Linked DNA regions of Homo sapiens: region 1 is linked to region 2. A link means that fine-mapping ties the variant in region 2 to the expression of a gene that starts in the linked region. Tissue or cell type: whole blood. Region 2 holds a variant in brackets; the other region holds the start of a gene. All regions are shown on one strand. Distances are from middle to middle.

What was found. PIP is the estimated chance that this variant, and not a neighbour inherited with it, causes the effect.
Region 1: it holds the start of UBE2K, and the variant in region 2 is fine-mapped to the expression of UBE2K in whole blood (TOPMed, PIP above 0.99). The same link has a PIP of 0.9 or more in monocytes and tibial artery.

Annotation. Positions count from the first base shown.
Region 1 is chr4:39,696,029-39,701,097 of GRCh38, forward strand. UBE2K (ubiquitin conjugating enzyme E2 K) reads left to right here and starts at 2,108. Exons shown (of 7, transcript NM_005339.5): 1 at 2,108-2,362. The coding sequence starts at 2,300. RefSeq lists an enhancer at 1,662-1,721 and a silencer at 1,802-2,091.
Region 2 is chr4:39,755,282-39,760,543 of GRCh38, forward strand. It overlaps UBE2K (ubiquitin conjugating enzyme E2 K), which reads left to right. Exons shown (of 7, transcript NM_005339.5): 4 at 376-458. Among named protein-coding and RNA genes, the nearest start is that of UBE2K, 60 kb to the left of the region's middle. The variant A/C (reference allele first, on the strand shown) is at 3,088.

The sequences.
Region 1 (5,069 bases), 59 kb before region 2:
GAGAACTGCCATGGGAGAGAACTGGAATTTTAAAATCTCCTCTTGGTTCCTGGGGCGGGAGTTTAAGAAATTCTCTTTTGCCTTGTGCCCCCACTGATTCGCCTCCATTGGCTATTTCCATGTTTGCCACCACAATTTTAATTACTTTTGGTAAAACCATGTATTTGTGATATTTTTATAATAGATATTTTACTGATTGGCTAGGTGAAGAAAGTGCATGAAGTATAAACTTCTGAAATGACACCCTTATTACTTATTCCAAAATGTTCTATTCAAAATGCTTCTCAGTACCAAACCATTATTACTATGCACCTTAGAAACCACTTTCTTTTTTAAAAATTATTATCTTTAGAGACAGGATTTCACCATAGGGCCCAGGTTGGTCTCAAACTCCTGGGCTCAAGTGATCTGCTCCCCCTCGGCCTTCCAAAGTGCTGGGATTACAGGCGTGAGCCACCGCGCCCGACCAGAAACCACTTTCTTTTGTTTGTTTGTTTTTTGTTTTTTTTTGAGACGGAGTCTCGCTCCGTTGCCCAGACTGGAGTGCAGTGGCGCAATCTCGCTCGCTGCAAGCTCCGCCTCCCGGGTTCACGCCATTCTCCTGCCTCAGCCTCCCGAGTAGCTGGGACTACAGGCGCCCGCCACCACGCCCAGCTATTTTTTTTATATTTTTTTAGTAGAGACGGGGTTTCACCGTGTTAGCCAGGATGGTCTTGATCTCCTGACCTCGTGATCCGCCCGCCTCCGCCTCCCAAAGTGCTGGGATTACAGGCGTGAGCCACCGCACCTGGCCCAGAAACCACTTTCAAACTTACTTTCCACTTAAAATATTTTATACTTTTTGTTTTGTTTTGTTTTGTTTGAGACAGAATCTTGCACTGTGGCCCAGGCTGGAGTGCAGTGGCGCGATCTCGCTCACTGCAACCTCCGACCCCCAGGTTCAAGCGATGTTCCTGCCTCAGCCTCCAGAATAGCTGGGATTACAGGTGCCTGCCACCACACCTGGCTGATTTTTGTATTTTTAGTAGAGATGGGGTTTCACCATGTTGGCCAGACTGGTCTCGGACTCCTGACCTCAAGCGATCCGCCGCGCCAGCAAAAACGTTTTAGTCTTATCTGTACTCATTTACTCATTCAATATTTATTGAGTGCCTACTATCACCAGGCACCTTTGAGGCCTAGGTTTACAGAAATAAGGCTCCCCCTCCCCCACCCCGAGTCCCCTGAAGGGTACTGTAATTGTTTCCATTTCTCCAATTTTCACTTTAATATATGTGAATTTTCACATGCTTCATTCAGTTCAGTGGTTCTCATAATGTGGTCCCGGAACCAGCACCAACAGCAGCAGCAACTGGGAGACTTGTTAGAAGCGCAGTCTTAGGCCCACCCTACACTCTAGGGATGGGCATAGGAGTGTGTGTGTGTGTGTGTGTGTGTGTGTGTGAGAGAGAGAGAGAGAGAGAGAGAGAGATTGTGTGTGTGTGTCAAGCTCGGTATTAAATAGGTCAAAGAGCAACATCTGGCTTCTAAACCCACCCTCAGGCCTCTCCACCGAGTACCTGTCTCAAACCCAATCTGATCCAACAATAACCAGCCTTAATTCAATAATCTGTGCTACCTGAGATGATGGGAATAATCGTGGTACTATAAATGTTGCAGAACAAAAACGACTGCAGTAGATTTTCTGGGGCTACACCAACTGAAAATGGGCCGGACCGAGATCCGGGAGAGCGTTTTCCTGCGCTAGACACGGCGTTCAGCCTCCGGGTTCCGGGTCTAGCTGAGTCAGGGCGGCGTTCCAGCCGAGTGCGGCGTCGGAAACCCGTTCGGTTGCGCCCGAACCTTCGGTCAGAGGCCAGCGCTGGAAGCCCAGACCACAGCACCCGGGTTTAAACAGGAGCGGAGGCGCCGGGAAGGGCCGGGGGGGCCGGCTAGGGCCGGCCAGCTTGGAAGCCGCACCCTCGCGGCCCCAGACGCCGGCAGGGCGGAGCCACGCGGCCGCAGCCCCAGCCGAGACGCGAGCTCGTGGCTCGGGCGTATGGGGGCTCCAACGGGAGCGGCTGCGCCGCCCGGCCGGGTCAACGTCGTGCGCATGCGCCGACCCGGCGCCATTTTGGTGGCCGGGCGCGGAGGTGATTCCACACTGAGGCGAGCGCGGCGGCCGGGGTGGTAGTGGCAGTGTTCGTGTGCTCAGGTCTGAATCGCCGAGGGAGGAGGCGGTGGAGGAAGAGGTGGCGGCGGTGGCGGTGGTCGTAGCGGTGGCGGAGGAGGCGGGTACGAATCAGCTGCGGGCGGAGACATGGCCAACATCGCGGTGCAGCGAATCAAGCGGGAGTTCAAGGAGGTGCTGAAGAGCGAGGAGGTCAGAAATGAACTCCCGGATATCCCCCACCTCTGCCTGGGGCGGGAGGGTCCTCCCAGCTGCGACCCCGATATCCCCGGTAGTCCCTGGGTGGTCCTCCTTGCGGCCGCCCTTCTGCCTGTGAGGAAGCAGCAGTGTTCCCCTCCTCCTTCCGCCGCCTTCCCCTCCCCTCCCAGAGCGCTAGGATGGACGGTCTCGCGGGCGGGTGGTCTGGGGTGGAACATGGTTTGGGGAGGTGATGGACAGGGGGCAACTCCTCGGAGGGATGGAAGCTCACAAGAGAACCCGAGGCGGTGGCCGCAGCTGGAAATGTGGCTGTGGGGTGGGGAGGGAGCAGGCCGAGCCTGAGAAAACCCGGGAAGTGGGTTGGGGGAAGGGGAAAGGTGGTAACTGGATCCCAAGAGCAGTGCTGCTCGAAGGCCCACACTTTTGAGGGTATTCGGGGTTATTGCCTGTCAGGCCTTCACTGTTCTTTTCTTGGGGAAGGAGCAGTGAGTCCTTAGGTATTGATTAAAAAGGAAGGACATTCAGAGTTAGTCCTTCTTAGTTGGGTGTTAGGAGTCAAAGGGAGACATAATAGAATACTGTCTTATTTGGTGGCAGGGGTAAGGGAATTTTCACCTGAGTTAGCAAGTTAATTCCAAATAAGATAATTATCTCTTTTCCACTTAACCCCCAAATTCCTAGGCCTCATCTTTATTGACATCTCAATCTTTTGAGTGGGCAAAGGCAAGGTGTTTGGTGTATTAAAGACATGTAAATATTTTTAGTTAGGAAACAAATAATGGAATGTATGAGTAGCTTATTTCAAAATATTGTTTACAAGTTACAGATCAGAGAGACTGTCTTAAGACAGTGCCTCTGTGACTCGTGTTGTGCCACGAAACTTCATTATGATGTCCCTCATAGTTAACTTGATTCTTACTTTTGAAAAGCAGACCTATTAAAAATGTGAAATTTCACCAGATTAATACATTGTTTCATCTCCTTATTGAGATTTATCACGACTTAACAGATTTTCAAAAAAGTTGCCTCCCGTTGCTCTTAAGTCCTGCAGAATTTAGATACATTTGTACTACGTTTATTTATGTAAGATATTCACAGTGCTCTAGTAATTTGACTCAAAATTATGCAAGTATTAGTACAGTTTCTCATACCAAGATCAACAAGAATGCCAGATTGTCTTCCCCACATGAATTAAACAAAAAGTAATACAGAAAATGATTATTTTCAAGATTCACATACCATTATTGAATATATCATTGCTATTTGTGTTTTTCTTTTACAGTTAGTACTTTAATAGTGTCAATAATAATTTGTGAAATTCAGCATTCTAAGTATGTGATGAGTATACATGGAGAAAAAATTATTTAAAATTCAAAAATGACAACAGACTTATTGAAAGTAGTATATAAGTCATGGTCGGTTTTACAGAGCATGTGTATGAACTCTGACCTCTATGTTTGTTCATATGCCAAAACTCTGAATGGAAGGATGACTTTGTATTTTGTGGTACAATGCAGAAATAGAGTCATAAGTGTCTGTACTGATACAATGAAACAGCAATTTTAACTTATTTAATATGAAAATGTATTCCAGGTTAGTTGACATATATACTCCTAATGAAAGCAGTTGTTGTTGCCAACAACTGAAAACATTTCTTGTTTAATAAGGTTGTACAAGCCTGAAACTTAATAGACTTTTAATGCTTTATTTTCTGTTACTTACGGTAACAGAAACAGTAAGTTACTGCTCTGGTAATTAATGTGGTCTCTTTGCTTTTTATGAGCTGACTTTTCACCGTGGTATTCTTAGTACTAAGTTGAAGATTACCAGAAATACTTGTATTGCTCTCTAGTAATGCATATTAAAAAAACACTGCTCTTTATACGTAAGGGATGTTGAAGCCTTACTTCAGATAAGCATCAAAAGTGTTTCAGAAGAAGAAAACAGGAAATGCAAACAGACAGGTTTTTTGTTGTTTTTGTTGTTTGTTTGTTTTGTTTTGTTTTGTTTAGAACAGTACCTGTATAAATATGGAAGGAAACTTCTGGGAAAATAAGTTGGAAAGAACATTTAGGAAAGGGTCACATCATTTAATCTTGGAATAAATATAACCAATAAATAGCTTATTTTCACCAGTATTTTTTGATATTTTAGTAGCCCCAGTTCTATAAGTGTATTGTTATTTTCAACTCATTGAAGACTTGTAGTATAGTCCATGTGTTTCCTTTTTAAGGGTGTAAATACAGTCTTTTGAATGGCTGATCAAATAAATGTTTCATCATGTCACTTTTTTGGTAAATCAGCACTTTACCGAAGTTTATTTCATGTGTTTGTATGCTTGTGTTTACTAAGAACACTGGTTGATTTAAGGACTTTTTGGGGTGGCCTTATAAGAGCCTTTGTAAAGATAGCTGACGCTTACTGGATTCTGGTTATGAGAGATTATAAGTGGCCGTTCTTAGAGTGTGTTAAAATACAGCCAACAAGATAAATGTGAAAAAGCAAGGTGCAGAATAGTGTGGAAGAGGCCATTTGTGTCAAAAAGAAGGGCATGTGTGTATTTGCCTGTATGGGTAAAAGGTTTCATGAGAAATTGGTAAAATTGATTGCTTTCTGTGTAGAGAGTTGGGTGTCTGGGGTATAGATATTTTTTGAATTTTGTGTCATACAAATGTGATTTACTTAAAGGCATCATTTGGCC
Region 2 (5,262 bases):
TCACATGAAGAAAAGTGCCATTTACTATTTATGTTTTTATTTTATGTACTATTTTATTTACCAAAATGGATTTTATTCTCTGTTGTATTCTCATAGCATCTACCATTATTCTAGGTAAATTGTAAGCTCCTAGTAATTGTTGGGTTTGTTTAAAGGCGGAACATTTATTAAAGAGTTTGAAAACAACATATGTTAGTGACAACATTCAGCTTACTGGATCCTTTGTCTTCTACACCCCTTCTTTCACCTAGGCAAAATGATGTAATAGATATAGGGACCTTTCTTTTTTTAGTTTGAAGATTTCATTTTCTTGTAGTTCTACTTAAACTGTTTTATTTCTGTTACTGAAAAACTCAAGTGTGCTTTATATTCTAGGTCCGGTTTATCACTAAAATATGGCATCCTAATATTAGTTCCGTCACAGGGGCTATTTGTTTGGATATCCTGAAAGATCAATGGTAAGAGATTTTGAATTCACCTTCTCTCCTTCTCATATGAATACCAAGACTGTAAGAGTGTTAAATGTGTAATTGCCTCAAAACATATATTATACTTTATCTTGTTTGGGCAGTAACTTTAAAAGTCTCTTAAGTGCATAACTGAAAATGCATTATAATTGAGATCACAATCCATATTTAAATAGAAACTTGTTAGATAATGTTAGATGCTAGCTTTACACTTTGAAAAGCCTTGGATTTCATTTGTTATTTTGGTAAATTTGATTCTTTGCTATCTTAAGAAGATATTTGTGAAAGACTAAAAAAGTAGAAAGTAAGTATTGAAGTAGTCATATCCCCCTTAGATGGAATGTAAGTTACAAAATTGTTGCAGGTTGTGTTAATTGAGCACAGTTAAGATTTTGGTTTATGAATTCTAACAAGGAGCACCTTTGTAGGTGATGTCTTCATTTGGATAGCGGTATTGTGCTTTCACTTTTTTTGTCTGATTTGCTCTGCACAGCATTAAATGTTTTAAGAGTTCCTACTCTGGAGCCACCAGGTTCACATCTTGGCTCTCCAGTTTACCAAGCTGCATGGTTATGAGCAAATTACCTAAAGTCTGTGTGCCTTAGTGTCCTCATCTGCAAAATGGGTTGATACCCACTTCATAGAGCTCAGAGGATTAAATAAGTTACTTTATGTAATTCCCTTAGAATAGAGCTTTGCTTTTGTTTTTGTTTGTTTGTTTTGAGACAGGGTCTTGCCCTGTTGCCCAGGCTGGAGTGCAGTGGCGCAATCACAGCTCACTGCAGCCTTGACCTCTAAAGCCCAAGTAGTCCTACCACCTCAGCCTCCCAAGTAGCTGGGAATACAGGCGCATACCACCACACCTGGCTAATGTTTGTATTTTTTTTAGAGACAGGGTTCCTGTTGCCCAGGCTGGAAGCTTTGTGTAGTCTGACAATGATAAAGATGATAGTTAATTATTTAGCACATGATTTTATAGATGGAAAAACTAAGACCAAAGGTATGAAAAGTAATTGGAGTGGGAGAAAACCATAAAACTAGAAAAAATCAATTAAGTGAGTGTCTATTATGACCTTTCCTTCTGATTTTACTCTTTTACAAGAGAAGGTATAACAGAACAAAATAGAACAGCAGTTGGTAAGAAGACTTGGAGCCAAAACTGTGTTTAATGGGCCCAGCCTGGCTGCCTAATCTTCTAAAGATTATATATTATTTTTGGTACTAGAATTTTTAAGCTATGTTTTTTTGGGTGTTTTTTTTTTGTTTTTTGTTTTTTGTTTTTTGTTTTTTTTTTGAGACAGAGTTTCACTCTTGTCACCCAGGCTGGAGTGCAGTGGCACGATCTTGGCTCACTGCAACCTCTGCCTACCGGGTTCAAGCGATTCTCCTGCCTTAGCCTCCCGAGTAGCTGGGACTACAGGCGTGCGCCATCATGCCCAGCTAATTTTTGTATTTTTAGTAGAGATGAGGTTTCACCATGTTGGCCAGGCTGGTCTCAAACTCCTGAGCTCAGGTGATCCACCTGCCTCAGCCTCCCAAAGTGTTGGGATTACAGGCATGAGCCACCACACCCGGCCTAAGCTATGTGATTGATTTGTTAAGAAAGGGGAGAAAAAAAGGTACCTGAAAGAAAATCAAATAGGAATGACAGTATTTAGTGTATGGCCAGTGGTTTACTTAGTAACTGGATGAACAGACTAGAGTTACAGGTTTTGTTTTGTTTTTTTTTTCTATTCCAGTAGTATATCTGAGTAAATCCTGTCCCTCAGTAGATCATCTCTTGGGATCTGGTTTCTTGATCTGTATTTCAATATATTCTATATTCCATATAGATCAAGACTTTCTAACATAAAGCAGTGTGGAATAGACTTACTTTTTATCTTCTCTGTTACTCTTTTGATTTGTGACTTTTACCAATTTATTGAACTTCTTAAGTGTCAGTGTTTTTAATCCATTAGGTTATCGCCAAGGCCTCTAAAAGCTCTAAGATTCAGTGATATGAATACATATTTGCAGTATTAGAGACATTGTACTGTTTTCACTTGGCTTCTAGGACATTAGATTTTCTATTCTCCCTTTCCTATGCTCACTCCCAGATTCCTTAACCAGTTCCTTGCATCTTTGTGTATTAGAATGCCTCAGGGATAAGTCTTGGATTTCTGCTCCTTTCTAGCTGCACTCACTTCCTTGGTAAGCTCATCTGATTTCATCATAACTTCACCTTTACATACTGCAAACTCACAAATTATCTTCCCTGAACTTGAGACTCCTATCCTGCTGCCTGCTTATCATCTTTACTTGACTATATAACGAACATATCAAACATAAACTGAACTGATAGTCTCCTAACCTGAAACCTGCTTCTATAGTCTTCCCCAACTAAGTTATTGGCAAATACGTCCTTGCATTTTCTCAGGCCAAAATCACATCATGATCCTTGGCATTTCTTTCTCTGGTACCCCATGCCCTGTCTGCAGATCTATTGGCAAAACCTCCCAACATCTTAACAGCAGCTTTACTACCACACTTTTCCAAACGGATTACCTCTAGCCTGCATGATTGCATTAGTCTGCCTCCCTGCTTCTGGCTTTTACCTACTCAGGCTATTCCCAGCACCCAG[A/C]ATGACAACTTTGAAAACAAAGCTTGCCGCCACGTGCAGTGGCTCATGCCTGTAATTCCAACGCTTTAGAAGGCGGAAGTGGGCAGATCGCTTGAGGTCAGAAGTTTGAGACCAGCCTGGCCAACATGGTGAAACCCCATCTCTACCAAAAATAAATAAATTAGCTGGGCATGGTGGTGCATACCTGTAATCCCAGCTACTTGGGAGGCTGAGGCAGGAGAATCGCTTGAACCTGGGAGGCGGAAGTTGCAGTTAGCAGAGATCATGCCATTGCACTCTAGCCTGGGCGACGGAGTGAGACCCCATCTCAAAAATAAAAAAAAAAAAGAAAGAAAAAGTTTGCAGATGAAAACTTCCCATTGACTTCTCTTTTTGCCCAGAGTTAAGCCAACAGTACTATTACTTGTAATTATCTTCCTATATAGCTAGTTGAAAGATTATGGTGTGTATATATAGAGAGAGAAGTTGAATTTTTATACCAAAACATTTTCTCCTAATATGATGTGCAGGAACAAAACATTTTTTACATCAACTATTCCCTTTTCCTAAGGCAGGTGAATAATCTTGTTTTTTATCTGTACAATTGAAATATTAGAATATACCAAAGACACATTAGATAAAATAGGTGAGACTAGATATTCATGAAGTCATTACTTTATTCCCAGAGCTTTACTGAGGTATAATTGACATTTAGTGCATATCCATATTTAAATGTGGATGTTTAGGTTTCAGAACTGGAATTTGATAGAGAAAAATACAGAGTCTTAATCATAGGAAAAATGAATTACATAAATAATTTTCAGCAGGCATACTAGAAAATAATTGGTTAATCTTGGTCTTTTATTAATGCATCTAGGGGTGATGATATACCTTTATTAATATTTAACTTATTTTAGTATATTTGTTTATTATTATTATTTTTTTTTGAGGCAAAGTCTCGCTCTGTCACCCAGGCTGGAGTGCAATGGTGCCATCTCTGCTCACTGCAACCTCCGCCTCCCGGGCTCAAGCAGTTCTCCTGCCTCGGCCTCCTAAGTATCTGGGATTACATTACAGGCATGTGCCACCACGCCCAGCTAATTTTTTTCTATTTTTAGTAGAGACAGGGTTCCACCGTGTTGGCCAGGCTGGTCTCAAACTCCTGACCTCAGGTGATCCACTGGCCTCGGCCTCCCAGAGTGCTGCAATGACAGGCGTGAGCCACTGTGCCCGGCCCCTGGTTTATTTCTTAATTCCACAACTTGTGCTGTGTGGAAACTATTTTCTAATGTTTTCCACTGACACTTACTATGACTAATGGTGTCTACTTACCTGGGGAAGAAAATGGCAACACATAAAAATTTCACTCAGTGACGCTGCCCTTCTAAAAGACACAAACAGGCACAGAATATCTGCCTGGTCGATAAGGTATGCTCAGCATCATTACTCATCAGGGAAATGCAAATGAAAATCACAATAAGATAACTACTACATGCCTGTAAACACAAATACCTCATGCATTGCTGGTAAGAATGTGGCTTAACCAGGCAGGGCACGGTGGCTCATGCCTGTTATCCCAACACTTTGGGAGGCCAAGGTAGGTGGATTGCTTGAGGTCAGGAGTTCAAGACCAGCCTGGCCAACATGGTGAAACCCCATCTCTACTAAAAATACAAAAATTAGCCAGGCGTGGGTGGTGGGCACCTGTAATCCCAGCTACTCGTGGGGCTGAGACAGGAGAATCTCTTGAACCTGGGAGGCAGAGGTTGCAGTGAGCCGACATCGCGCCACTGCACTCCAGCCTGGGTGACAGAGCGAGACTCTGTCACAAAAAAAAAAAAAAAACAGAAAAAAAAAAAAAAACAAATAATGTGGTTTAACCACTTAAAGCCAGTAATATCTACCAAAGCTAAACATACACCTTCAGTATGCCCTATCAGCTTCATTCCTAGGTATATATCTAAAAGAAATTAGTGTCTATGCCTACTTTTTAAAAGACATGTATAAAAGAATATTTATGGCAGATTTATTAATAGCCCCAACGGGAAATAACTTAGATGTCTCATCAACAAGAAAATTGATACATTGTGATCACACACTGGAGCACTACATAAACAGTAAAAAAGAGCCTATCATTGACACAAACAACATGGATGAGACTCAGTCATGTTGAGTGACAAAAGCCAGACACAAAAG